Homo sapiens: one gene and its partners. The protein of the gene in region 1 purifies or fractionates together with the protein of each later gene. This does not show direct contact. Each region holds a gene or a part of one and is shown in the gene's direction. Other genes may lie near its edges.

What was found.
Region 2: the proteins of TRIM13 (region 1) and ELOVL2 purify together in Homo sapiens (affinity purification with mass spectrometry; 2 studies listed by BioGRID and IntAct, with this or other methods). This does not show direct contact.
Region 3: the proteins of TRIM13 (region 1) and NPLOC4 purify together in Homo sapiens (affinity purification with mass spectrometry; 2 studies listed by BioGRID and IntAct, with this or other methods). This does not show direct contact.

What each region holds. Positions count from the first base shown.
Region 1 is NC_000013.11:49,999,954-50,007,061, forward strand, and holds part of TRIM13 (E3 ubiquitin-protein ligase TRIM13), read left to right. Parts: intron 1-1,041; exon of another isoform or gene 1,042-1,152; coding exon of another isoform or gene 1,153-1,155; intron 1,156-7,108. UniProt on the Homo sapiens protein: Endoplasmic reticulum (ER) membrane anchored E3 ligase involved in the retrotranslocation and turnover of membrane and secretory proteins from the ER through a set of processes named ER-associated degradation (ERAD).
Region 2 is NC_000006.12:11,041,279-11,048,719, reverse strand, and holds the start of ELOVL2 (very long chain fatty acid elongase 2), read left to right. Parts: upstream 1-4,414; 5' UTR 4,415-4,489; coding exon 4,490-4,492; intron 4,493-4,894; exon of another isoform or gene 4,895-4,962; intron 4,963-7,441.
Region 3 is NC_000017.11:81,557,103-81,564,210, reverse strand, and holds part of NPLOC4 (nuclear protein localization protein 4 homolog), read left to right. Parts: coding exon of another isoform or gene 1-11; exon of another isoform or gene 12-231; coding exon of another isoform or gene 232-290; exon of another isoform or gene 291-3,328; intron 3,329-4,794; coding exon 4,795-4,952; 3' UTR 4,953-7,108. UniProt on the Homo sapiens protein: The ternary complex containing UFD1, VCP and NPLOC4 binds ubiquitinated proteins and is necessary for the export of misfolded proteins from the ER to the cytoplasm, where they are degraded by the proteasome.

The sequences.
Region 1 (7,108 bases):
CCACTTCTTGAGTGCTGGGGGTGTCTTAGTTTTTTTGACTCCTAAAATTAGGTGTTTAGATGATTTCTAAGATGCTTTTAAGCCCAGTATTTCTATTCCTACCCCATAACTTTTATTACCATTTATTGCCTATACATATATATTGGTAAGACACAGATGCAGACTAATGTTAACTGCCTTAAACTTTTATATTTTAAACTCGGGTAGGTATGGTAACAAGTGTGTCTTATTGTTTTTTACTAAGTCCTATAAAACTATGGTTTTATTTAAGGTTAGGAACTGCATAGAGAGGTGGACCACTCTAATACATCATTGGTTAGAGTTCATAAAGTGATATAAACCCTTTCTAGAGAGAAACCTAGTCATCTTTTCAACAGCCTTAAAAATGTCCTTACTGTTTGACCCAGAAGTACATTTAAAGGAATTGTCTAAGGAAGTAATTAGAGCTGTGGAGCAAGACTTTTCTCTATAAGGTGTTTACCTAAATGTTACAATACCAAAAAAACACAACAACCCACAAACAAAACAACACAGCAACAAGAACAAACCCATAAATGAGCAATAAGAAAGCATATCCACAACATGGACTGTCATGTTTTTCTAGAACATATCATGATGGGGGAAAGGCATGTAATAAAATAAGGGGATAGGATACAAAATTGTATTATGCTACCAGTTCTGTTAAAATGTGTGCACATGCACGGACACATGGGATTGGAATAAAGACACCAAAATAATAGTAGTGGTGATTTCTTGCTGATGTGATTATGGGTGGCTTTTTCTCTCTATTTTCTGAATTTTCTATAATAAAAACTAATTTTATAATTTAAGAAGACACAAAAGCTAGTTGCATGGATAACTTCGGTTTCAGTATGGTGTCAATATTTTATGGTTTTAATTGTGGTAAGAACATTTAACATGAGACCTATCCTCTACACAGATTTCTAAGTGTACAGTACAGTGGTGTTAACTATAGACATGAGCAGATCTCTGAAACTTACTTTTATGTGTCTTTTATAAACTATTTATCATACCTTCTAGAATAACAGCACCTGGCCGGGTGCAGTGGCTCAGGCCTGTAATCGCAGCACTTTGGGAGGCTGAGGTGGGCGGATCACCTGAGGTCAGGAGCTCGAGACCAGCCTGGCCAAAATGGTAAAACCCTGTCTCTACTAAAAATACAAAAAATTAGCTGGGCATGGTGGCAAGTGCCTGTAATACCAGCTACTTGGGAGGCTAAGGCAGGAGAATCACTTGAACCCAGGAGGCGGAGGTTCCAGTGAGCCAAGATCACACCATTGCACTCCAGCCTGGGTGACAAGAGCAAAACTCTGTCCCAAAAAAAAAAAAAAAAAAGGCAGGAAAGAGTCCAGGCTAAACTATGGTATGGAGAAGAGAATGAAGGAAAAGGAAAAAGTTTTTCTTAGTGCTCTGAACTAGCGAGGTAATGAGTGACCTGGTTTATATTTCTGAGAATTTCACCTTAGTCTGACAACCCTTTGTGAACTTTCTGAGTAAGTGAACTTACCAAGCTAGTGAACATTCTGTACTAGCTCTATTTTGCCTTGTCAGGATCTCTGCTAGAAATATCTTGGAAATTTTAACTACTGTTTATTCTAGGATAATGCCAGAAAAGGTTGGTTACTTACTGTCTTATATGGACACATAGGTAACTTTTATATTGTTTGCAAGAGCCACATAACAATTATTTTAGATACTATATGTAATATATTAATTTTCATTTTTAGAGGTATTGAAATCTGATATTTCTTACTTTGTCCTGTTTTGATCATATATATGCCAGAGGTGCTATGTGTAATACATTAATTTTCATTTTTAGAGATTATATCTGAAATCTGATCTCTGTATCTTACTTTGTCCTGTTTTGATCATATAAGTCACCGGGACAGTCTCTAAAAGAATGAAGAGTAATAACACATTGATACAGAGTATTTAAAATAAAAACTTTGTAAATACTTTTCATATACCTTTTAAAATAGCTATACAAATGAGGAGAGAAACTAGTATGTATAAGTGGTTTGTCAGAGGTTACAGACTGAGAGCCAGACAAGTATGTCAGTCTCCTCACAGGTCTGGATTCAGAGACTTCCAGTAATACATTAAAAAAAAAAATTTATGAAAGATGAAACCATAGGCTGGGCATGATGGCTTATGCTTGTAATCCCAGCACTTTGGGAGGCCAAGGCAGGAAGATACTTGTGGCCAGGAGTTTGAGTCCAGCCTGGCCAACATGGCGAAACCCCGTCTCTATTAAAAACATAAAAATGAGCCTGACGTGGTGGCAGGCACCTGTAATCTCAGCTACTTGGGAGGATGAGGCAGGAGAATTGCTTGAACCCAGGAAGAGGAGGCTGCAGTGAGACGAGATCGCACCATTGCACTCCAGCCTGGGTGACAGAGCAAGACTGTCTCAAAAAAACAAAAACAAAAACAAACCATACTACAGCAGATTAAACTTCTTATGAGGCTTATATTTAGCTAATGTTTTCAAAGTTTTACTTTCTAAACTCAATATGGTTTTTTAATAATTGGCTCTTTAGTTTTTCCACCCATTTTATTGTGAAAATGTTCAAACAGAGAAAACTCAAGAAGAATATTAAAGTATTCTTACATCCTCTACCTAGATTTTAATAGTTGTTAATTAGACCCTTACTTAGTTTCAAGAAAACATTTATTAATGGATCTCTCTTTTTTTTTTTTCTTTTTGAGATGGAGTCTCACTCTGTCATCTAGGCTGGAGTGCAGTGGTGCGATCTTGACTCACTGCAACCTCTGCCGCCTGGGTTCAAGTGATTTTCCTGCCTCAGCCTCCCGAGTAGCTGGGATTACAGGTGTCTGCCACTGCTCCCGGCTAATTTTTGTATTTTTAGTAGAGACAGGGTTTCACCATCTTGGCCAGGCTGATCTTGAACTCCTGACCTCATGATCCACCTGGCTCAGCCTTCCAAAGTGCTGGGATTACATGCATGAGCCAATGCACCTGGCCTAATGGATCTCATACTACAGTATAGTAAGGTGCAGTGGCTCATGCCTGTAGTCCCAGCTACTCTGGAGGCTGAGATGGGAGAATATAGTACACTATTTGAAAATAAGATTAACTAGTGTGCTGAGAGGAAATGATTTTTTTTAATGAGCCATTTTATTATAGGAATTATTTCAAAGTAACATTTGTGGCTGTCTCAGTTCAGTAAAGCTTAGCATAATTTAATGTCTATGAAGTGAGTTTCAATGTTTGCTGTCTAGCCACCTGATAGATACTTAGGTACTGTTTTGAAATTCTTGCCTTCAAAGATGCCTCAAAACAGGATGGAAATTTGAGTTAAATCCTTAAGATAAAAGCGTGATATATTTATTGGCTTTTCTTTTTGTTCCCTAATGGGAAATGAAAAAAAACAAAAAACATGGGTAATATTTTGAACAACTTTATATTGCTAACAGCCAGTGGAATTTAAAACCTTAGTAGGAAAGTTTCTTTTACTAATAGGTTTTATAAGGAGAAAATGAACTTTTGTTTCAGAGTGAATGAATGAGTACTTTCTGCAGTATAATCATTTTGGGTTGATCTCTTAAAAGAATTCTAGAAGGAAGAAGTCCAATACATATATATAAACTCTATTATGACACGTTTACTTTGTAAGTATTGGCTTTTCCATTTTTATTATTTTAGTGGTTGTGTTATGGTTCTCATTTATAGAAGCTGTTGTTGCCAGATACTAATTGAGGTAGGATTCATAAAGCACTTTTTGTAATCCTTCTTCTTTGTGGATAGCTTGACAATTTGTTCAAAAAAATAAACTCATAGTGGTGGTATGCAACTTTGTTAAAAATAAAACTGTAAATCAAAAAGTGAATTTCATTGTATGTAAATTTAAAAGTATGTTAGAAAACATCAATATGGCAGGAGAACAAGTTTGACTTTTTTCCGCAACTAGTGTCTACTACCACCTTTCTGGATACTTTAAAAAGTTGTCAGCTTTTAAAATTGTTGGTATAAAACATTTGGGAAGTTTTTAATTGGTATTTGTGCTTCAAAATTTAAGACTTTTCTAAGTATTCAGAAATATTCAAAGGAAGAGATGAATTTTGGAAAACTTGTTTGCCTTTATGTGCTTAATCTGACTTTAAGTTGAAATTTGAACAGTGAATAATAATTTTGTTTACATAAAGTTTTTTGACTTCTATATTAGGAAAAAAACTAGCTTGAGGCCAAGTGCAGTGGCTCTTGCCTGTATAATCAGCACTTTGGGAGGCTGAGTCCCGACTGCTTGAGCTCAGGAGTTTGAGACCAGCCTGGGCAACATGCTGAAACATCATCTATACAAAAAAAGTACAAAAATTAACTGGGAATGGTAGCATGTACCTGTAGTACCTTACAGCTACTCATGAGGCTGAGGTGGGAGGATCACCTGAGCCTGGGGAGGTCAAAGCTACAGTGAGCTGTGTTAGGGTCACTGCATTCCAGCCTGGGCAACAGAGTGATACTCCCTCAAAAAAAACAACAAAACAGACTGGGCACACTGGCTCACGCCTGTAATCCCAGCACTTTAGGAGGCTGAGGCAGGTGAATCATTTGAGGTGAGGAGTTCAAGACCAGCCCGGCCAACATAATGAAACCCTGTCTCTACTAAAAACACAAAAATTAGCCAGGTGGTAGTGGTGCATGCCTGTAATCCGAGCTACACGGGAGGCTGACGCAAGAGAATTGCTTGAGCCTAGGAGGCAGAGGTTGCTGGTGGGGAGGTTGCCAGTGAGCCAAGATGGCGCCACTGCACTTCAGTCTGGGTGACAGCCCGAGACCCTGTCTTAAAAAAAAAAAAAGGGCCAGGTGCGGTGGCTCACGCCTGTAATCCCAACACTTAGGGAGGCCAAGGAGGGCGGATTACCTGAGGTCAGGAGTTTGAGACCAGCCTGACCAACATGGTGAAACCCTGTCTCTACTAAAAATACAAAAATTAGCCGGGTGTGGTGGCGGGCACCTGTAATCCCAGCTACTCAGGAGGCTGAGGCAGGAGAATCGCTTGAACCCAGGAGGCAGAGGTTGCAGTGAGCCGAGATGGTGCCATTGCACTCCAGCCTGGGTAACAAGAGCGAGACTCCCTCTCAAAAGAAAAAAAAACAACCAGAAACCCCGAAAAAGAGGTGGAGGGGATGTATCCTTTTTTGTTCATGTCAAAGGAGTAAGCTGGGTTGATTACTTCAGATTTTGTGTTAGCCATACTTTAAGATTTTGTAAGTTATTTTGCTGTGAAGAGTACCTTTTATTTATGATATTAAAGGCTTTAACTTAAATTATCCTTCAAAACTTTGGAGGCAACAAAGATGTCTACCATGGTTTCTTGGATCAGGTATTAGTCACTTGTGGAAGTGGTCACATAGTTTTGTCTTAGAGAAAGTTTTGATTATAAAGAGAAGGCATAGGCAGGGCATGGTGGCTCACAACTATAATCCCAGAACTTTGGGAGGCCGAGGCGGGTGGATCACCTGAGGTCAGGAGTTCGAGATCAGCCTGGCCAACATGGCGAAACCCTGTCTCTACTAAAAATACAAAAATTAGCCTGGCATGGTTGTAGGCGCGTGTAATCCCAGCTACTCGGGGAGACTAAGGCAGGAGAATCACTTGAACCCAGGAGGCGGAGGTTGCAGTGAGTTGTGATTACACCACTGCACTCCAGCATGGGCAACAGTGCAAGACTCCATCTCTAAAAAAAAAAGAGAGAAGGCATAAAACTAAAGGAAGAAAGGAAGAAGAGAAAAGGAAATATTTAGTTTTTTTTTTTTTTTTGTGATGGAGTTTCACTCTTGTGCGATCATGGCTCACGGCAACCTCTGGCCTCACGGGTTCAAGCGATTCTCCTGCCTCTGCCTCCTGAGTAGCTGGGATTACAGGCATGCGCCACCACGCCTGGCTAATTTTGTATTTTTAGTAGAGACGGGGTTTCTCCATGTGGGCCAGGCTGGTCTCGAACTCCCGACCTCATCTGCCCACCTCGGCGGCCTCCCAAAGTGCTGGGATTACAGGCGTAAACCACCGCGCTTGGCCAGAAATATGTAGATTTTAAAGTGAATGAAAATAAGAATCTTTAAATTATCAACCAAAATTTGTAAGTTAAGTCACTAAAAATGAAATTAGAGGATCTATTGTAATTTTGATGCAATTTTTTTGAAGATACTTTCCAAATAGTATTTTTTCCCCTCTGGTTCATTTTAAGAGCTGTATGTTGATCATGACCTTGGGATGACTGTTTATTATTTCTAAGTTTTCCTGTGTGTGACATTTTCCTTTTCACTTTTGATCACATTTGTTTGCCTGAAAATTCTTCTTGGCCCCTGTCGTTGTATCCTCAATTTTCTTCATAGTTTCTCTTTGCCTTTGGTGCCCTTTTTCTCCTCCTCATCCCACCCAATCACTTGGTATATTCTTTGTTTTCTTCTTATTTAATATGCTTGGATAGTATTCTCTGGAAGTATTAACATTGCAAGGATGAGTAAATTAGGTTTCTTTTATTGAGTGTTGCCCTTACCACTTTCCTGTTTCTATTGCCTTCTCAAAAATCTGGCCTTTGTGTAGAATTCTTAGGCAAAAGATGATAGTAATGGAAGTGAAAAGTGTGGAGCAGGACTGGGGTTGGCAGATCATCAAAAGTTTGACTTCATTGTTCTGAAAGTTTGTGTGTCTTACAGCTGTGTGGTAATCTCTTTCAGAAGACAAACTAAGTTGAGTCTTTATAGCCATTCTCTTTCCAATGCTTTTCAGAGGTTATATGATTTGTCATATCACAAAGGATTTTTCAGAAAAATCAGCTAATTACACCTTTTTTTGCAATATGACACTAAATTTGAGACAGAATAATCTTTGCTTTAGTTCTCCCTATGTTATGTATTATAAATACATGTATCTTACAATCTACTATAAAACCATAAACTGGCTGGGCGTGGTGGCTCACACCTGTAATCCCAGCACTCTGGGAGGCTGAGGTGGGCGGATCACCCGAGGTCAGGAGGTTGAGACCAGCCTGGGCAACATGGTGAAACCCTGTCTCCAGCAAAAAATACAAAAGTTAGCTGGGCATGGTGGTGGGCGCCTGTA
Region 2 (7,441 bases), on another chromosome or scaffold:
TACGTAAACATAAGGACACAGTGGTATTCTAATACAAACTTTATTTACAAAAGCAGGCAACTGGCTGGATTTGTCCTGCCACTGTAGTTTGCCATCCTCTGCTCTAGAATGTTATACTAGAATATAGTACTCAGCATAATATTTTCAAATGAATTAACATAAACTTTATTTTAAACCTGGATTGATACAAGGTCATGATTGTCTCCTTGTTACTACATCCAATCAAATGACCAATATATACATATATTGCTTTGTCATAAATCCTTAGTCCTAACATATCGAGTGAAAGCTGCACTAAATTTGATGGAGGGAACTCAGTTTTTTCAATGTGCCTTCACTTGGGCTTAATCTTTACTCTTTATCTTACTATTTTTCATTTCTAAACTCATATAGGTGCAGAGCTTTCTTAACACAAAGCAGAGCCCATGGCCAAGGAAAGGACGTGATTTCCAGAGTCTGTTTCTACTACTACCCTAAAAGTACAAATACTTTGAAGAAATGTAGTAAACTGATTTAAAGTCATAATACATTGTAAGTGAGTATTTTTCTCAAGATAAAACACAAAGATGCTAGGTATATCAAAAGAAGGGATGCTTCAGAAGAGAACCACACTAAAAGGAGATTAAACTCCCCCCAAAACAAAGCTTGCCTACTTCATAATTTTGATGAGGGCTGGCAGACTAGCACTGCAGAGGCAGTAGAGACAATGAGAATACTCACCCAGGATTCAGGAGATCCAGGCTTTAGCACTGTCATCTATTAATCGGTCTTCTCTAACTCCTCTGAGACACACTTTCTGAACCTATAAAATCTACGATATGTGACAGAGGGAGAGAAAGAGCATCAGTCAGATCTCTATTTTTAGGTTTAAGATTCTTAGATTATGCTAATCATCACTTTATATAGCACCACATCCATGTAAGTACCTAACACACAATTAGTCTATGTTATTGTACACATGCTCAATATGGGCTTGCCGTACAGCTAAGAAACAGAGTCCAGCTTTTGTGTAATCCATACAAGAGAACAACGAAAGTAAATATTATAAAATCATGTAAGTGATGGCATGTTAAATTTTCCATTAAGTGGGAATTCATGTTATACCCAGTTAAGACCCTCTCCCAGTTATATCTGGTTAAGATATGTTTCCAGTCCTGTGTTTATACAGGTAGAACCACTTCCTTTTTTAAAAAAATTAATTAATTTATTTATTTTTGAGATGGAGTCTTGCCCTGTCACCCAGGCTGGAGTGCAATGGCGCTATCTCGGCTCACTGCAAGCTCCGCCTCCTGGGTTCAAACAATTCTCTTGCCTCAGCCTCCCAAGTAGCTGGGATTACAGGTGCCCGCCACCACGCCCAGCTAATTTTCATATTTTTAGTAGAGACGGGGTTTCACCATGTTGGCCAGGCTGGCCTCAAACTCCTGACCTTGTGATCCACCTGCCTCGGCCTCCCAAAGTGCTGGGATTACAGGCATAAGCCACCGCACCTGGCCACCACTTCCTTTTTCTATTTAATAAAATATTGGTGGGGAAAAAGACCCTCTGGCATTTGCCGTCTCATTTGTTCCTTTGTTGTAGTGATAAGGAAAGCCATAAAATAATATTTTAAGAAACAGATAAGATATAGATGACTTTTTAGATCTCCTTCTGGCCTTATGGGTTGATGTGTATTTTTAGAGAATAAAGGTAAAATAATGATTATCAGGCTAAATGGTAATGTGGAAGTATAGGGATAATTCAAAGTTTAAGAATTCCTTCCCCATGTTTACCTGGTGTGCTTTGCAAGGTTTAGATGACATCAATGATACAATTTTTGCAAGCAACAGCCGCAGGGTTCTTAGAGGTCGGTTGTCACTTAAAATTGTTTTTTCCCTTCATGTTGTTAGAAAAATAGACTAAAGCTTTCCCTGAATGGATAATGGAATTTAGTTTCTCAAAATATCATCCATGGACTGCCTGGCTGCACCAGTATCATTTGTGGTGCTTGTTCAAAATTCATATTCCTTAGAAATGGAGGTTTCACCACTTCAAGACCCATAGAGAGTCCATTATACTTTATGCAGGGTCAGAGATGCCTCTGGAATGAAGTAGATACTCCCGCAATGTGAAACTGATAGCAAATATTAAACCCAAAGCAAAACCAAAAAAAAATTCATATTCTTGGTCTGTACCTGAGGTCATCTTGATGGATCTCAAGTATCCCTGTATAGTATTAAACCCTCTGGTGCTACTTATACACAATAATGTCAAAAAATCACTATCTAGATTAAGAATTCACATTATACTGCATCAGATTAGTGATACAGTGAAATTCAGGTCCAGAGTTTTTATCATTCAATATCCAAAAGACGTGGAAGCTACTTTTATAGCTTTCAAATATAACACGTATCAAATAGAAGAAAGAACACAGGTAAAACAGAAAGAATAAAATCATTCCAAGGAAAAACAATATTTGGGGACTATTCGTGTGAATTTCCTTCAAGTCTCTCAATATCATAATATAGATCATCACAGGTTCTAAAAACTCCTAACAGCAGGGACTGTGTTTTTCTTCATCACTGTAACCCTAGCTGTTACCAAAACGCCTAGCACATAGTAGGCACTGAAATCTTTGCTGAGTGAACAAAGTAAGTGAAGCTGAAATCAAATTGTATCTTTGATTTGGGCCACACTTTTTTATAAAAATATGCCAGCATTAAATAGAATATCACTTTCTGATTCTCAAATGCATCAAATTGATAACAAATCAATAACTAGTACTTTTGTACCAGATATTTTTCTAGAGTTTTACCCATATTAATTTAACCCTAACAGCTACATGTAATGTTAAGTGCTATTTTATCCCAAATTCGTAAATCAGGAAACTGGAGCATAGACAGTTTAGGTAACCAACCCAATACCACACACCCAGTATGTGGCAGAGCTGACTCCTGAGATTTTTATCAGACTAGGTTAACCTGTTTATGGTCATAAAATCATCCGCCTTTTATAAACAAATATATGCCTAATATTTACCACTTCAGCTACAGAAATTCTATATTAGGAAGAAAAACTCTCTATTAGGAAACTATATATTAGGTGATTGTATGACAGTTAAGATTTAGCCCCGGTACCTACAGTTACTCACTCTGCTACTGCACAAAACTCTGCAAGGGCTCCCACACCGCCCCAGGTGTGGGATGCTAAGTGTATGGTGCAGGTACCTCCGTGCACAGCCACACGGGCTGCTCTCAACCCCAATAAACATGTTTACCACATGAGCCTCACATGTGGTAAACATTTTTTTTTTTTTTTTTTTTTTTTGAGACAGGGTCTCATTCTGTCGCCCAGGCTGGAGTGCAGTGGCGTGATCTCGGCTCACTGCAGCCTCCACCTCCAGGGCTCAAGCCATCCTTCACCTCAGCCTCCCGAGTGGCTGGGATCACAGGCGCAGGCCACCACACCCAGCTAATTTTTGTATTTTTTATTTAAGAGGCGGGGTTTCGCCATGTTGCCCAGGCTGGTCCCGAACTCCTGACCTCAAGTGATTCGCCTGCCTCAGCCTCCCAAAGTGCTGGGATTACAGGAGGGAACCACCACGCCCGCCAACTTCCCATGCTTGAGGGAGAAATGGAAGAAAGTTCATGTAATACTCAGGCAAGTCCAATTTTTTCGACGTCTTTCACTTGGGCCACACACACAACTAAAGTAACTAGAAGCGCAGGCTCTAGGAGGCCACCGTTCTGTTCACAGTGAAGAGGGTGCGCTCACCGTTGGTCGTGTCCGCTGGAAGCCCCGCGTCAGGCCGGGAGCGGGACAGAGACTCTTGCTCAGGGCCGTTATCCGAACTGATCCGCTTCCCACCGCACCCCCAGAGAAACCCACCCAACCCCCTAAACCTAAGAAACCCAGACTGCGCAAACCTGCAGGAACAGAGCCATTTCCCCCTAATGTGTGCTTCAAACCCACCGAAGCCCAACTGTAAGCAAGACCAGCGTGCCCGCCCTGCACGATACTGCTTCTCCCCGCAGCAGCGGCTGCCGATCTGGGCAGCGGGTGGGTATTCCTGGGGCTCCGTGGACGTTGAGCCGCCGCGCGAAACCGGCGCCGGCTGGACCTGCAAATCGCCGCCCGGCCGGCAGGGGACGCCGCGGACGCGAGGGCGAGGTCGGTCGCCCAGGAGGGGGCGCGCGAGGCCGCAGGGGCGGGGGGCGCCGCCTCACTTGCCCTGCGCCCCTCCCCCGCGCGCCCTCCTGGCGCGGCGGCCGGCGAGGCCCCTGTGGGAGAGGGGGCGGGGACGAAACGGCCCCGAGGCTCGGAGCGCCGCGCGGCGGCGGCGCGAGCCCGAGGGGGCGGGGAGGCGCGGGCGGGTGTGCGCGCGCCGGGCGTGGGTGTGGGTGGGGGTAACCGGCGCGGGCGCCGAGATAGCGCCGGGCAGAGGGACCCGGCTACCCTGGACAGCGCATCGCCGCCCGCCCGGGTCGCCGCGCCACAGCCGCTGCGGATCATGGTGAGTGGGGCCGCGCGCCGCCACCGACACCGCCGCGCTTTCTTTCTCTCCTGGACCCACGCACCGGGCGGGAAAGGGCCGAGCGGGCGCCGGCGCGGGCGCTGCGGGTTCGCCGCTGGAACCCGCTACCCTCGGAGGGGCCGGGTCCGCGCGGGCCTGGGGAGCGGGAGCTGAGCGTTTGGGCCGGGGGCGCGCGGGTCGGCCCGAGGCCCGCGGGTCTCGGGAACTTTGTCTCGGTCCCCTCTCCCCGGTCCCGCCCCGGCACCTCGAGGCGCCCGCTCGCGCCCAGTCCCCTGTTGCATGCACGGGGCCGGGCGCCCGGGATGCCCGAGGAAGCCGCCCCTCCTTCGCGGCGGCCATTCCCGCGCGCAGCCCACCCTCCGACCCTCCGGACCCCCGAACCTGCTCTCGCCACCGCCCGCCGACGCCTGGAGCGGAGAACGGCGTTTCCCGCGCGCGGCACACACCCTGCCTCGGGAGTTCTGGGGTTCGGGCCCTAACGGTCAAGCTCTTGCCCCTCTCCTCCCTTCACCGCGCCTGCACCCCGGGGGTGTGTCTGTGCACTCGTGGGTGCCTCCTGGGTTTGCAGATTGGCTTGGGAAGCGGCTGGGTTTCTATCAGTGTCTGGGCTCGGAGGGGCTTCTGGTGTGTTCTTTCCGACAACTCCTCTCTCTGCCCGATTTCCCAGGCCAGTCCTCCACTCTGGATTAGTAACGCTTCTTTCTCCTCGGCAGTAAGCTGTGTGTGTGTGTGTGTGTGTTCACCCGTGTCCGATGAACTGCCTGACAGTAAGCTGTGTGTGTGTGTGTGTGTGTGTGTGTGTTCACCCGTGTCCGATGAACTGCCTGACAGTTTTAGTAGCAGAGCCTGGTTCTTTGGTTACAAAGGGAGAACATCTGTTGTGCCATCCTCAAAGGACTGGTCTTTAGGCAAAATGTGAAATCCGCGTTTGTCTTCAGTGGTCCATATTCAGTGTTTGCCTCACCCCCTTCCCGTAGGGTTTTCTCTCCACTTCAGGACTTGTTAAAATAAGCGCACTTCCTTTCTCTTCCCCACTCCATCTGATTTTGCTCTGGCTACCCTTTTAGGCACGTACCATCTGCCTGATTATGTGTGACCACTTAATCTTAAAATTCCAACCTTTCCTACCCCGCCCACCACAGTGTATATTCCCCTTGCCTGCTTCATTTGTCTTCTCTTGAGCATGTATTAGTTAGCGTACTGCATATTTTGTTTCTTTAGCTTGTTTCTTGAACGTCTCCTCTACCAGAATATAGGTTTCAGGAAGACACAGATTTTTGTCATTTCGTTCATTGCTTGCTAGATTTCTAGTACCTACAGCAGTGCCTGGCGCACAGTAGGTACTTGATAACTCTTTTGAATTAACCCAATAAAGCAAGCTGCTTTATGTTAATGCACAGGTGGGGAGTAACTGCAAAGATTATGCAGTTGACATTTGTAATGATGAGAGTCTCAAGTGAAGTTTGGGAGGAGGGAGATACTCCCGACAGGAGGGACCCGATTTTGGCAGCCTTCAATGACGAGTCTAGGCGGCTATCTCTTATGCCTTGTCTGTCGCTTCATGCTCTTTGCACCTTGGCATCAGAGTGGACAAAGCATTTTTAGGACCAACTGGCTCTCCTTTTGGGCTCTGAAGCTTTGTCCTAAAGTATAGGTAGGAATTGTAGTGAGTAAGGGAATAAGTCCAAGGAAATCTCTTTAGCTGAATAGGAAAGTCATGGGAATGTTAACCTAAAAGAGCTAAAATCAAGGGCAAGCTCTTGAAAGCTTTATCCTGCCCAAGTGTGATGCTTCCTGTTTAGATAAGTATTTCTCAGAAACTGTGGGTCTTCAGAGGAATTTTTTTTTAATACCCAAATCCAAATTGTATTACTTTTTTCTTCTTTCTTTTTTTGTGGCAGGGTCTCACTCTGTCACCCAGGCTGGCATGCAGTGATGCAATCTTGGCTCACTGCAACCTCCACCTCCTGGGCTCAAGTGATTCTCGTGCCTCAGCCTCCTGAGTAGCTGGGATTACAGGCGCACGTCACCACACCAGGCCAATCTGTGTATTTTTGGTAGAGACAGAGTTTCACCATGTTGTCCAGTTTGGTCTCTAACTCCTGACCTCAAGTGATCAACACCCACCTCGGCTTCCCAAAGTGCTGGAATTACAAGGCATGAGCCACCATGCCCGGCTGAAATCGTATTACTTTAAAAAAAAAATGGGCAGGGAGTAGGAAAGTTAGGGGGTTGAATTTATAAATAACTTAGTGGGTCAGTTCAGAGAGACATCCTTTTCAATACATGTCCAATATGAACTGTCTTGTAAGATATCTCTGCTAGTTAGTCTTATTATTCCAAAATAAATATTTTTTCTTTCAAATTTCCTTTTGTTTTTCTATAATGTGGATTTATGGCATTGGTTTTTTAAAAATTAGTCTGGAGAAATGTATTAATTGGAAACAAATTGTTTAATAAAATTTACATAAGTTTTTGAAAATTATGTAATTATAGCTATGACTATGTAAGTTCAGCAGTTCTGTGGTTACCATCTTTCCCAGGTAGGTAGTAGAAATTAAAGGTAAAAAGGAAAGAAATATAAGTTTGTCTTTGAAATTAAAACCAATGAACCAACCAAAGATGAATGAAAGATACCTTATTGACTTAAGTTTCTATTTGTAGGATATTTTACTGTTAGGATTCCTAGGATTCCAAAGTATCCAGCCTTTTTCTCTTTCGATTCTTCGAACGTATAGCATTTTCAAGGAGTAAAAAATCAATTTTTAAAGTATCCAGTTGGGTAAGCCTAATTTTTGGTTCTTCAACAAGGGTTCCATTTAATCTAGTTTCCTTCAAAACGTTTTAGTCAGTTTGGGAGGTTCAGGTGCTTTCATGTTCCGAAAGAGAATGTTGAAAATGTGTCAAGTAGATATTATGTATCTAGTT
Region 3 (7,108 bases), on another chromosome or scaffold:
ATATTGCCTGATGCTGAGGTTGGGGTATGATTGATCACATCACCCAGGTACTACACATAGTACCTAATAGTTTTTCAGCCCGCCCTGCTCTTTGTGTGTGTGTGTGTGTGTGTGTGTGTGTGTGTGTTTTGAGCTGGAGCCTCACCCTGTCTCCCAGGCTGGAGTGCAGTGGCGCAATCTTAGCTCACTGCAAACTCTGCCTCCTGGGTTGAAGCAATTCCCCTCCCTCAGCCTCCCGAGTAGCTGGGATTACAGATGTGTACCACCACACCTGGCGTTGCCATCTTTATGTACGTGAGTACCCATGTTTAGCTCCCACTTATAAATGAAAACATGTAGTATTTGGTTTGCTGTTCCTGCATTAGTTTGCTTAGAATAATGGCCTTCAACTGCATCCATGTTGCTGCAAAGGACATGATTTCATTCCTTTTTATGGCTGCAAAATTTTTTAATATTTTTGTATCAATGAGGTCTCACTGTGTTGCCCAGACTGGTCTCAAACTTTGGCCTCAAGCATTCCTTGCACCTCAGCCTCACAAAGTCCTGAGATTATACCTGGGAGCCACTGCACCCAGCCCTTTGATGCAGTTCTAACAATGACACCAGTCTTTTTTTTTTTTTTCTTTTTTGTTTCCCTTTTAGAGACAGGGTTTCACTCTGTTGCCTAGGCTGGAGTGCAGTGGAGTGATCATAGCTCACTACAGCCTTCAATTCCTGAGCTCAAGCGATCCTCCTGCATCAGCTTTCGGAGTACCTAGGAGTATAAACATGAGCCACTACACCCAACTAATGTTTTTGGTTGGTGTTTTTTTTTTTTCTTTAAGAGATAGGGTTGGCCGGGCCCGGTGGCTGGCTCACACCTGTAATCCCAGCACTTTGGGAGGCTGAGGCAGGTGGATCACAACGTCAAGGGATTGAGACCATCCTGGCCAACATGGTGAAACCCCATTTCTGTTAAAACTACAAAAATTAGCTGGGCATGGTGGCGAGCGCCTGTAATCCCAGCTACTCAGGAGGCTGAGGCAGGAGAATCACTTGACCCAGGAAGCGTAGGTTGTAGTGAGCTGAGATCGTGCCACTGTACTCCAGCCTGGGCGACAGAGCAAGACTCTGTCTCAAAAAAAAAAAAAAGATGTGGTCTTGCCATGTTGCCCAGGCTGGTCTCAAACTCCTAGGCTCAAGTGATCTTCCTGCCTTGGTTCCCAAAGTGCTGAGATTACAGCTGTGAGCCACTGCACCTGACCTTTTTTTTTTCCCCCCTCCTTTTTTTTTTGAGACAGGTTCTCACTCTGTCACCCAGGCTGAAGTGCAGTGGCATTTGAGGTCAGTCTCACCTTGACCTCCCCAGGCTCAAACAATCCTCCCGCCTCAGCCTCCTGAGCAGCTGGGACTACAAGCATGTGCCACCATCCCTGGCTGATTTTTTAAATTTGTTGTAGAGATGAGGTCTCACTATGTTGCCCAGGCTGGTCTTGAACTCTTGGGCCCAAGCGATCCTCCCGCCTCAGTGCTGAGATTGCAGTGGTAAGCCACCATGTCCAGCCAACTCTTTAATAATAGGCAGTTCTGACTGGTGTAAGTTCTGACTGGTATCTCACTGTGGTTTTAATTTGCATCTCTGATGATTAGTGATGTTGGGCATTTTTTCATGGGTTTTTTGTTTGTTTGTTTTGAGACAAAGTCTTGTTCTGTTGCCCAGGCTGGAGTGCAGTAGTGTGATCTCAGCTCACTGCAGCCTCCACCTCCCGGGTTCAAGCCATTGTCCAGCCTCTGCCTCCTAAGTAGCTGGAATTACAGGTGGCTGCCACCACACCCAGCTAATTTTTTTAGTTTTAGTAGAGACAGGGTTTCTCCATGTTGGCCAGGCTGGTCTCAAACTCCTGACCTCAAGTGATCCACCCACCTCGGCTTCCCAAAGTGCTGGGATTATAGGTGTGAGCCACCGCGCCCGGCCCTCATGGGTTGTTTTGTTTTGTTTTGAGACGGAATCTCACCCTGTCACCCAGGCTGCAGTGCAATCTCATGATCTCCACTTACTGCAACCTCCACGTCCTGGGTTCAAGTGATACTCCTGCCTCAGCCTCCCGAGTAGCTGGGACTACAGGCGTGCACCCACGCCTGGCTAATTTTTATATTTTTAGTAGAGATGGGGTTTCACCATGTTGGTCAGGCTGGTCTGGAACTCCTGACCTCAGGTGATCCACCTGCCTCGGTCTCCCAAAGTGCTGGGATTACAGACGTGTATACACAAGACACAAAGATCAGCTCAGGATGGGTCATAGGCCTAATGGTAAAAGGTAAAACTATGAAGCAGGCTGGGCATGATGTCTCATAGCTATAATCCTAACACTCTAGGAGGCCAAAGCTGGAGGACACTGTAGCCCAGAAGTGTGAGACCAGCCCACACAGCATAGTGAAGCCCCGTCTGTACAAAAAAACAATATTAAAAAAAAAAGAATTAGCTGGGCATGGTGAGTGGTCCACGCCTATAATCCCAGCTTCTGGGGAGGCTGAAATGGGAGGATCCCATGAGTCAGGAGGTCGAGGTCACAGTGAGCCATGATTATACCACTCCAGCCTGAATGACAGAGCAATACCCTGTCTTAAAAAAATAAAAACTGTAAAACAGTTATTAAGTTGAATCTCTTCAGGGCCTTGGGGTACGCAAAGATTCTTTTAGGCAGGATGCAGGACCTTGGGGTAGAACACAGAAAAACACTGGCATAAAAATAGGTAAATTGATAAATAAATTTATCTAAACAAAACACTTGTGCTCATCACAGGGCACTGTTAGAAACATGAAAAGGCACCAATGGGGGACGCAGTATTAGCAGTACATACACACAACATGACTTCTATCTGAAACTTAAAAATAACTCTGCCTGTTGTTAATCAAACAGAAAGCAGAAGAAGAAGCTGGGCGGAGGGTGAAACGTTTCACAAAAGGAAATGCAGGTCGGGCATGGTAGCTCACGCCTGTAATCCCAGCACTTTGGGAGGCCGAGGCGGTGGATCATTTGAGGTCAGGAGTTCGAGACAGCCAGGCCAACATGGTGAAAACCCATCTCTACTAAAAATAAAAAAAATTAGCCAGGTGTGGTGGCACGTGCCTGTAATCCTAGCTACTTGGGAGGCTGAGGTAGGAGAATCGCTTGAACCCAGGAGGCAGAGGTTGCAGCGAGCCGAGATTGCGCCATTGCACTCCAGCCTCGGCAACAACAAAAAAAAGGAGATGCAGGAACAGTCACTATCATTAGTCATCAGGGAAATGCAAATTAAAACATGAGAAGCCGTTACACATTCATCAGTGTGGCTGAAATGAAAAAAACGCGACAATGTCAAGTGTGAGTGAAGATGTGAAGCAGCTGGGACTCTCGTACCTTGCGAGTGGGAGGCAAAACCGTGCCACCCTCGCGAGAACTGTGTCTCAGGGTCTTAGAAAGTTCAGCACACAATTCATTACCCTGTGGGCCGGCAGATTCATTCCTAGGTAGGTTTTTTGTTGTTGTTGTTTGTTTGTTTGTTTGTTTTGAGATCTCGGCTTACTGCAACCTCGGTTCACTGCAACCTCCGCCTCCCAGGTTCACGCCATTCTCCTTCCTCAGCCTTCCTAGTAGCTGGGATTACAGGTGCGCACCACCACCCCCAGGTAATTTTTGCATTTTTAGTAGAGACGGGGTTTCACCATGTTAGCCAGGATGGTCTCCATCTCTTGAATTTGTGATCTGCCCACCTCAGCCTCCCAAAGTGCTGGGATTACAGGCATGAGCCACCGCGCCCGGCCTGTTGTTTGTTTTTGAGATGGAGTCTCGCTGTGTCGCCCAGGCTGGAGTGAAGAGGCAGGGTCTCGGCTCACTGCAGGCTTCCCCTCCCGGGTTCATGGGATTCTCCTTCCTCAGCCTCCTGAGTAGCCGGAACGGCAGGTGTCTACCACCACGCCTGGCTAATTATTTTTAGTAGAGACCGGGTTTCGCCATGTTGGCCAGGCTGGTCTCAAACTCCTGACTTCAAGTGATCCACCCGCCTCGGCCTCCCAAAGTGCTGGGATTACAGGCGTGACCCACTGCACCCAGCCTCACTCTTTGTTTTTATCCAAGAGAAATAAAAACACAGGTCCACAAAGAAATTGTAGAAGAATGATCCTGGCAACTTTGTTCATATTAGCTCAAAACTGGAGGCTGGGCATGGTGGCTCATACCTATAATCCCAGCACTTTGGGAGGCCAAGGTGGGTGGATCACCTGAGGTCAGGAGTTCGAGACCAGCCTGGCCAACATGGTGAAACCCTAGTTCTACCAAAAAATAGATAAAATTAGCCAGGCATTGTGGTTCATGCCTGTAATCCCAGCTACTTGGGAGGCTGAGGCAGGAAAACCGCTTGAACCCGGGAGGTGGAGGTTGCAGTGAGCCGAGATCGTGCCACTGCACTCCAGCCTGGGTGACAGAGCAAGACCCTACCTCAGAAAAAAAAAAAAAAAAAAAAAGCTGGAAACAACCCAAATGCACATCCCCCGGGGAGTTACGTTATTCACAAGGAGAAGCACCCTCTGCAACAAAAAGGAACCAGCAAGCACAGGCTCCCTGTTACTCCCTGTGGTGCAGGAGGCATTTTTCTGAGGGCATTAAGCACTTCAAAGTGTGCCTGTGGTGGGAGTGCTGTGTGGGCAGGACCAGCACTGGGTGGGATGTTGGGGGCGGGGAGCTCTCAGCTGCCTGCCCCTGCCCCCATGCCCACACTCTGGCAGTCTCTGGTGGGCCAGAAATGATGAGTGCTCATTTCTCTTCCACCCTGCAGGCACAGTTGGCGGGCAGCTCCCAGGTCTCCATGAGTACGGCGCCGTCGGGGGCTCCACACACACGGCCACTGCAGCCATGTGGGCCTGTCAGCACTGCACGTTCATGAACCAGCCAGGCACAGGCCACTGCGAGATGTGCAGCCTCCCCAGGACCTAGGGCGCCTGCCCTCTGCTGGCTAGGACCGGGCCCAGCCCAGCCCTTCCTGAAGCCAGAAGCGTTGCTGAGTGTGTTCCCTGTAACTGCCCCATAGTGGGCAGCCCTGGAGGAACAAGGGGCTGGCTGTCCTGGGCTCCCTGACCCACTGAAGCTTCTCAGCACGTTCCTCCCTGGAGAGCGGGCGCCACGGCTGGTATTCTGCAGGCTGAATGCAGTCTCCAGACTGGAAACGCAGAGCGGCTCCTCACGCCTAATCCTGTTGACAAGTCCCCCGCCGTGTTGGAAAGACCTCTCGCCTCTACGTGGCACCTGGAATTGGGGCGCACAGGGAGGGGCCGATGCTGCCACCACCCAGCCTTCTCTTTATTTTCAGTGCTTTTTGTTTGGCCTCCCTGCCCCCATGTTTTTCTGGCTGGGAGCTCTTGGTTACCCCCTTGTCTGACTGCTTGGTGGCAGGCACCCTGCCTGTGAGGGCCACTTTCCTCTTCTAGTAGCTGTTGTCTGGTGGGGACGCAGTGGCCCTGGACACGGCTCCCCTCTGCAGGTCTGCAGGTCGGTTTGCTGCCTGCCCTCCTCCTCTCACCCGATGTCCAGGTGGGATTTTAAAGTCTGCATTGGTTATAATAACAGTTATCAGTAATTCCTGCCCAGAAGACTTTTATTTATTTTTTTTTAAGATAAAAACTGCACAAAAGGGGAGTGAGAGAGACTAGTTTCCACATCCTTCCCTCCTTTAGTGAAGCCCCCGAGGTTGTGTCCAGGGTGATGAGTGTGGACGGGGGCACCAGTCAGTTCTCCCTTGAAGTAAACCTCAGTGCCTGAGACTTTTCTACCAAGCCACACAGCTGCAGCAACTGCAGATACTGCGGGCTGAGCAGGAGCAGTGGTGGCGCCTGCCCTGAGGCTGCCCTGCGATGGCCTGGGTGGGAGAGCTGGGTCACCGGTGCCGATGCTCTGGCCCTCCCCAATACGCTGCTTCGTCCCACTGCACCGCCTGGCTGAGGGCGTTAGGGGCTGTGCCTCTTGTGAGGGCCATTTGGGACCTCCCTGGGGCACTGCACAATTGATAGTGTACCAATAGAGGGAGACTGGGCGATCTGGAACAGCACGTGGTGGGGTCCTGCTTGTGTGCTCTGCGTTCCTCTGTGGCGTGGCCAGGCCGGGGCATGGCTCTTACCCGGGGAGTGGTGGGCATCTCGATGCTTCTTTGCCTTAATGATGGCCACATCTGGGCTGCTCTGCACCCACGGGAGAGGCTGGCCCAGCTGCAGACTGCTTAGGGACTTCTGTGTCCATCCTGGGGGGTAAGCCCACGTGACCCACATTCTTGGCACTATGAACAGAGAACATTTGCCTGTTGGCTTCTGAAGTGGTCAGGGCCATGGCTGACACCTCCAGGTCCGCCTGGCATGGGACACCAAGTGGAAGGCCCAAGCAGCTCATCTGCTCTTGGGACCAGGGGCCAGTTGGGTTGGGTCTGGTCACGGCAGAGCTATTGTGGAGGGTCAGGAAGGGTGGAGAGGAGCTGGGTTGAAGCGGACTGCTGCGGATGCAACTCCCAGCTTGCCCACCGCGGGCTGTCTGCTCTCCCTCCTAGCAGCTGTCACACTGAAGTTTTGTCCTCTGCTGTCTCCTCTGGTCCTGAGATGAGCTGTGAGCCTAGGTGGCCAAGGCTTCCTGCATTGCTTCCCTGTGAGTCCAAGGCCTTCCCCCACCACTGGGCAGAGGCTGGACAGCACGGACTTCTAGAGAGAGCCGCGTTGCCAGTTCCTCTCCCACTCGCTCGTCCTTATCCACCACGCTATTATAGTTTCCGTTGTCCTCCACCAGCATTTCCCTTACTCTGAAGTTCCGGCATTCACATCATTCATGTTTTCTTTTGTCTTTTAGCTAAAGGAAAAGCATTGGCGATTTGTCTGATTCTGGTTTTGAGTTACTCTTTGTTCAGTAATGCACTTTATTTTATTGTCCAAAGAGAGTCAGAGCTAAGCATACAGGCTTGGGGGTGAGCCCTGCTGTGAGAGTTCAGGCCCTGGGAGGCTCAGCCACCTCCTCTTGTGGGAAGGAGGTCTCAGCCCCACCTCGCATCTTCACCTGCCCTTGGTGTGGACACACCCTCTCATGCTACCAGCACCATAATCCAGTGGGGGTGACTG